Homo sapiens: one gene and its partner. The protein of the gene in region 1 purifies or fractionates together with the protein of each later gene. This does not show direct contact. Each region holds a gene or a part of one and is shown on either strand. Other genes may lie near its edges. The genes, in order: KLHL28 and CAAP1.

What was found.
Region 2: the proteins of KLHL28 (region 1) and CAAP1 purify together in Homo sapiens (affinity purification with mass spectrometry; one large-scale study listed by BioGRID and IntAct). This does not show direct contact.

The regions. Positions count from the first base shown.
Region 1 is NC_000014.9:44,930,917-44,934,744, forward strand, and holds part of KLHL28 (kelch-like protein 28), read right to left. Parts: intron 3,643-3,828; coding exon 3,199-3,642; intron 626-3,198; coding exon 417-625; intron 1-416.
Region 2 is NC_000009.12:26,844,217-26,848,044, forward strand, and holds part of CAAP1 (caspase activity and apoptosis inhibitor 1), read right to left. Parts: intron 1-3,828. UniProt on the Homo sapiens protein: Anti-apoptotic protein that modulates a caspase-10 dependent mitochondrial caspase-3/9 feedback amplification loop.

The DNA of each region.
Region 1 (3,828 bases):
ACCCCCTGGGGAAGAAAGAACATTTGAAAGTGAACATACAGATTACTGATATACAATAGAAAACAAAACAGAACAATCCGAGGATTGTATGTATGTAACATATGAAAAGATGACATTTGTTACATGGACAAAAGGAGCTTCTATAAATACACACTCTAGTATAAGCATTTCCCAAAATGTATTCAGCAAGTTTGAGAAACAATAATATGCACATTGGCATATAAAAGTCACAATAAAGAAATCTATATACTTTTGTCTAGCTAATTGTCTTTCAAGTTTACCACATACAAGTCTTTTTTTTTTTTTTTCTGGACAAGTAATATTCCTACTGCTATATTCCAAGGAACTATTATTGCAAGCACATCATTATAGAAAACATTGCCTTACATGTTTAGAAATTAATAAATTCTTATTACCTGTTCTAGGTTCTTTCATTGGTCTACACACAGTCCACTGATTTTGATGAGGATCGTATCTTTCAATGCTGGACAAATGTGAGACTCCATTATGTCCACCCACCACAAAAATAAAGCCTAGCATGACACCCACGCCAAAGTGAATCCTTTTATCTGCCATGGATGCAACCATCTCCCAGGAGTCCTTACTTGGATCATAACGCTCCACACTGCAAATATTTAAAAAAAATTTAATTTACAGATCTTTTGTGTCATTCTTCCTGTCAAAGCAAAACTAAAACCCACTACAGCTTTAAAAGTTCACATAATAGAGAGATATTAAACAAGAGTAGTCTGCCACAAATGCTTAGGTTTTGCTGATAAGATTGCAAAGATAAAAGCTTACCTTGTAAACAAGGTGCAATTCCATATGCTATTCCATTATATTGTGCAAGCGGCAAAGTATATTAAGAGCATAGAACTTGGAGTCAGAAGACCTGGGTTCAAGTACTAATTCTGTATACCTAGGGCTGAACGAACCTTAACCCTACTGCTGTGGATTTGTGTAATCCTGAATAAGTCATTTCCTCTCACCTGCAAAAATGAGGATAGTGCAACCTGAAGGGATTCATATAAGAATAAAGTCAAATGAGTATGCACGTGACTTTGAAAACCACTAACTGAATACAGACTTTTTTTTTTTGTTCCTAAATTTTATTTATTTATTTTTGAGGCAGGTCTCGCTCTGTCACCTAGGCTGGAGTGCAGTGACAAGATCAGAGCTCACTGCAGCCTCAAATTCCGGGGCTAAAGTGATCTTTCTGCCTCAGCCTCCTGAGTAGCTAGGACTAAAGGTACATGCCCCCATGCCTGGCTTGAATACAGAGGTTTTTAGGATCTTCTATACAGTTAAGGGGAAAAGAAGAGGAAGAGAGGGGTGGGGGGTGGGGAGAAAAACCTTTATTTTTTTTCGTCACAGGAGAATTCATGTGGCTTACTGCAAAGCAATCACTGTAGATTGCATAGTACAAACTGGCTGATCATAATTATCTCAGGGTGATTTAGGAGTACTCAGGAATTTGAGTCAAGACTGTGTTTCAGAGAACGTGTGGCATTTCTAAGCTGCATTATGGAATCCAAATTAAATCAGAATTTTCAAAAAGGCTTCCCTAGAAAATTCTAGCAGCTGTTTAAGACTATGGTTTCCTCTGAAGGTGCACAAAGGCACAGAGGTAAGATTGTTGGGCTTGTTCTGGCCCTAACCTATTTCCTGAAAAAACCATAAGCATTTAACAGGCTGTGACACCATTCTGGAGTTCATAATAGAGACTGGGTAATGTTTCTGAAAGAACTCCAGGATAGAATCCATTAGACCAAAATCATTGAAGAAGAGTTGATGCACTGCAGCAAGACTTTCAAGATAATCAAATTTAAAATACTTAACCTTTTATCTTACAAATTTTGGGCAGAAGCTTTTCAAAGAATAGAAATGCATGTCTATGTCCCATATTTTTCCTTCAACTAAGGGCAAAAAATATAAATAAATAAAAGGAGGAATACTTTGGCTTCAATAGAAGTAAAAATTTACAGATGAAATGCTGTTGTGCCATCACTTTCTCAGTCAACAAACCTCAGTATTTGTAGAGGATTGGTTCCAGGATCCACCCCATCCCAAGGATACCAAAATTTGCAGATGCTCAAGTTCCTTATATAAAACAGTATAATATTTGCATATAAGCTACACGTATCCTCTTGTATACTTTAAATCATCTCTAGATTACTTATAATACTATGCAAATAGCTGTTATACTGTATTATTTTGTTTTTTATTATTGTAAATTTTTTCAAATATTTTTGATCCACAGTTGGATGGATCTGTGGATGTAGAACCCGTGGATATGGAGGGCTGACTGTATGCCCTGTCATTAAAATACTCACAATCAAAATAACACAAACCACTCTAATTACTATTAAAGATACAATCTTTTCTTTTCTTTCTTTCTTTTTTTTTTTTTTTGAGACAGGGTCTCACTCTGTTGCTCAGGCTGGAGTGTAGTAGTGCATTCAAGGCTCACTGCAGCCTCAACCTCCTGGGCTCAAGCAATCCTCCCACGTCAGCCTCCCAAAGTATTAGGATTACAGGCGTGAACCACCACACCTGGCCAAAGATAAAACCTTTGGAACATCAATTTTCAATAAAGGTTCAGAATTACGATTAATTTCTCATATAACTAGTTACTTCATACTTTTATTTTCTCATATATATTTCTCCTTTATTCAGATAAAACTACAGAATACAGATATCACAAATTCAAACTCCAGCACAAGTCAAATACCTGATGATACATGTATGATTACAGGAAAGAATTCAGAAAGGAATATTTAAATAAGGTTTTAAGTTTATGATGTGCTATAATATTGTATAGACACACAGGAATTAAATTTCTACTTCTTTATTCTATTAAGCAATACAATAAAAGATAATTTACATACTGTGCACATAGATGTACACACCACACAAAATCTAAAGTTGTCTAACTTCATCTTATTTTTAGGTTTCTGAGTTTTAAAATCTAGTCCATTTATAGTGAATGAATGTAAAATTTAATGAGAGGGATTTGATTGTTAGGTTTGTATTAAATTCCCATGTAAAACAATTACAATTATATCCATGGAGCAGATTAAGTTTCCCAAATGCCGGAAGTTCATTCATACACACAAATTGTTTAAAACTCAGAAATCATTGCTAATGAGACTTTTAAAAATCCATAAACATATGCAATTTAATTATTAAGTTAAATACCTGTTCATGTGGGCAGGACCATACCCACCAATGGCATATATCATTCCATCCAATACCGCTGCAGCAAAACAACTTCTTGTTGTCGTCATTGGTGCCACAGGTTGCCATTTTCTTATTTTGGGAATGTACTTCTCTACAGATTGTAAATAAGATTGTCCATCATAACCACCTAAGGCATAAAGTTCTCCTGCAAGTACTACTACTCCAAGAGTACTTCGGCTTTCATTCATTCTCTCTAGAGAAGTCCAAGTATTTGTATCAGGATTCCAGCATTCCACTGAATTTTCATGTTTTCTGATAGTGACGCCAGGACGCACATTAGTTGCAATACCACCTATAACATATACTTTTTGGTCTAAAACGCATATTCCAAATTCATAGCGAGGAATGTTTAGGGGTGCCAAACCAATCCAAGAGTCATTCTGAGGAAAGTACATCTCCACACTAAAGAATAAGCAGAAAAAATATAAAATTTAAAAACCAAAGTGGCCCATAAAGACAGATATGTTTAATCTTATTAGTAATCAGGGACACAAAAATTAAAAGCACAATAAACCATGACACACCTTCCAAAGTGGCAAAAAATATAAAGTCAGATAATAATTGTTGGCAAGAATGTGTAGCAAGAAA
Region 2 (3,828 bases), on another chromosome or scaffold:
CGTAGGGGCACATGCCTGTAATCCCAGCTACTCGGGAGGCTGAGGCAAGAGAATCACTTGAACCTGGGAGGCGGAGGTTGTGGTGAGCCAAGATCGTGCCATTGCACTCCAGCCTGGGCAATAAGGGTGAAACTCCGTCTCAAAAAAAAAAGAAAATAAGTGCTAAGTTGTTCACAGCCTCAAAAAATTAACTTTAGTGTCTCCGAGGCTTTACCTAAAATTTAAAGTGTATAGTCACTGATTCTGAATAAGAAACTACAGGCTGTATAAAATATTTTAAAATACAAATTTTTGAAAAATGTGACTTGTTTTTCAGACTAGGGGTTGTTGCGAGATAATGAATGAAGAGCTGAATAATATAATGAGGGGGTGGAGAAGAGGTAAACGGTAGTTGATTCAGAGGCTTGATCAGACTCAGGTTCAATTTTCTGGTAAGAATATTTAGAAGTGACGTTGTGTACTTCCAGCACATAATATATAATTGCTTTTCTTTTTGTGATCATGTCAGTATCCATTGAGATTGGGTATTGTCTACAGTGGCTGATGAGAATACTCTTGATTCCCTGAACCTAACCATTGTAATGCTTTTGTCTGTAATCTAGTTTTTTTCTGTGGCAACTTTCAGGAACTTTTTTTATTCTTGAATTCTATTTCACAGGATGTGTCTTAGGTTTGATGTTCTACACGTGGCAAGCCCTTTCAGGGTGACGGCCTTCTTCACCTCCTAACAGTTTTATCCAGATTATTTCTTTATTTTCCCTTTTCACTATCTACTTTCTTGCTTTCTGACTTATTCTGTCACTTTATCAAGTCCCTGCTCAAATGGTACCTTATCAGATCATAGTGATCACTCTCTGTGAAAGTGTCATCCTGCTACTGTCTTCTTATCCTGTTTTATTTTTCTTCATTGCACCTGACATTTTTATGTATTTTTACTCTCTCTCTACTACTTAAATGTAGGGCAGAGATTTTTGTTGTTGTTCCCTGCTGTTTCCTTGGTGCTTAAAACAGTGTCTTGTACACAGCAGGTGCTCAGTAATATTTGTTGAATTATACTCAGTTCATGTTGGACTTCATGAGTTGTTCATCTTCATCTCTTAACTTTTATTGCACATTTAAAAATATTTTTCTTTTCTGGATTTTGAGATATTTCCTTAACATGATCTCCCAGCACTGCTGAATATTTGCTTTTTCTGTCACCCAGGCTGGAATGCAGTGGCACAATCTCTGCTCACTGCAACCTCCACCTCCAGGGTTCAAGCGATTCTCCTGCGTCAGCCTTCTGAGTAGCTGGGATTACAAGCACGTGCCACCACACCCGGCTAATTTTTGTATTTTTAATGGAGACGGGGTTTCACCATGTTGGTCAGGCTGGTCTGGAACTCCTGACCTCGTGATCCACCCACCTCAGCCTCCCAAAGTGCTAGGATTACAGGTATGAGCCACCACGCCTGGCCGATATCTGTAATTTTAAATTCTAACAATTCTTGGTCTCTGGCTTTTTATCATTGCACCCTGTTTTATGGCTGCAGTGTCCACATTAGTCTCTCTCATAAGGATATTAAATGGACTCTCTTCTTCCCTTTTCTCCAAAAGATTATCTTCTGATCCCTGAATTTTATTTCTTCTTTTGTTTATCTTGGTCCTTCATTTGTTTTAGCTATGTTTTTCTGGTAGCTGGTTTGGTTTTTTTGAGCAGTTGTTTATTTCTCTAACAGATCTTTTTCTTTGATATAAAATGGATGAGGGGTAGGCCTCTCAGAGTAGAGTGCTTGGATATATGGCCGTGAAAAGGAGGGAAAGGAGGAGGAGTTCAGTTGGCTTAATTATTCAAAATGAATTTAATTTTAATTGCCATGTTGTTTGTTCCACAGCCAATTCTTCCTTCTTTCCAAGACTCAAGAAAGAGTTACACTTACCAGCTGGGCACGGTGGCTCACGCCTGGAATCCCAGCACTTTGAGAGGCCAAGGCAGGTGGATCACAAGGTCAGGAGTTCAAGACTAGCCTGGCCAAGATGGTGAAACCCCACCTCTACTAAAAATACAAAAATTAGCCGAGCGTGGTGGCGGGTGCCTGTAATCCCAGCTACTATGGAGGCTGAGGCAGAGAACTGCTTGAACCCAGGAGGCAGAGGGTGCAGTGAGCCGAGATTGCGCCACTGCACTGCAGCCTGGGTGACAGAGCGAGACTCTGTCTCAAAAAAAAAAAAAAAAAAAAAAAAGAAGAAGAAAAAAAAGAAAAAAGAAAGACTTACACTTATCTATGGTGTCTTTGGCTATGATTTTCCTTTCTTTTGTCAATTTGATCCTGTCTACTTATATTTTGTGAAAACCATAAAATTTCTAATCTTTACATTATATCTTTTTTGTTATACTGTAAATTCATTTTTTCTTTTAACGCTTTTTACAGTTCATTCTTGTAAAAGGTTGAAGAAATACATGTTCACAGAGCAAAATGGGAAAATTAATTTTTCTTCTTTTTTTTTTGAGACAGAGTTGCACTCTTGCTGCCCAGGCTGGAGTGCAATGATGCGATTTCAGCTCACCACAACCTCCACCTCCCAGGTTCAAGCAATTCTCCTGCCTCAGCCTCCCAAGTAGCTGGGATTACAGGCATGCGCCACCATGCCTGGCTAATTTCGTATTTTTAGTAGAGACGGGGTTTCTCCATGTTGGTCAGGCTGGCCTCGAACTCCCAACCTCAGGTGATCTGCCTGCCTCAGCCTCCCAAAGTGCTGGGATTACAGACATGAGCCACTGCGCCCGGCCAATTTTTCTTCTTCTTTTACTCCCCTTCCCAGAAGTAATCACTGTTAATAACTTATTTATTTTATTTTTAACAAAAACATAATTATCACTCTTTGGCTTACTTTTTTGACTTAAAAATATATCTTGGTCATTTTTTTTCATCTTAGCAATGTACTAGCTTCTTTTATAGACAGATAAAAATCCTCGTTTTTACTAGTAAGTAAAAAGCAATATTTTTTTTTTTTTTTTTTTTTTTTTTTTTTTTTTGACACGGAGTCTTGCTCTGTCACCCAGGCTGGAGTGCAGTGGCGCGATCTCGGCTCACTGCAAGCTCCACCTCCCGGGTTCACGCCATTCTCCCGCCTCAGCCTCCCAAGTAGCTGGGACTACAGGCGCCCGCCACCACGCCCAGCTAATTTTTTGTACTTTTGGTAGAGACGGGGTTTCACCGTGTTAGCCAGGATGGTCTCGATCTCCTGACCTCGTGATCCGCCCGTCTCGGCCTCCCAAAGTGCTGGGATTACAGGAGTGAGCCACCGTGCCCGGCCAAAAGCACTATTTTTTTAATTTACATTTATCTGATTAGAAATTAGGTTGAGCATTCTTTTCCACGTGTGTATTGCCTTCTGTATTTCCAGTTTTGTGAAATATCTGACTTGTTTCTACCCTTTGCCCATGTTTTTGTTTCTTAATAATACCTACATTCTATATATTCTTATATTTGTCCTTTTTTTGTAGTTTTCCTGTCTTATAATTTTATTTATGGTGTTTTTTTTTCTCAGAAATATTAACATTTAGCTAAATCTGTTGATTTTTTTTCCCTTTGTTTATTCCCTATTTTGTGGTTTACTTTGGAAGGACTGCTGTTTATTAGTTTTGTCATCAGTTAATTTACAACTTATGTTATTATTTTAAGTATCCCTCTTCTGTCACTTCAGTGGGTTCTTGGTAGGGAGGGGAAGTAGATACGTATGTTCAATTTGCTGTCTTTAGAGGAAATTCACACCAGTATCTAAATAATCCATGTTCTAGAGTTTGTCTTGGCTTAATTTAATAATTCACTATCAAGAGGTTTCACA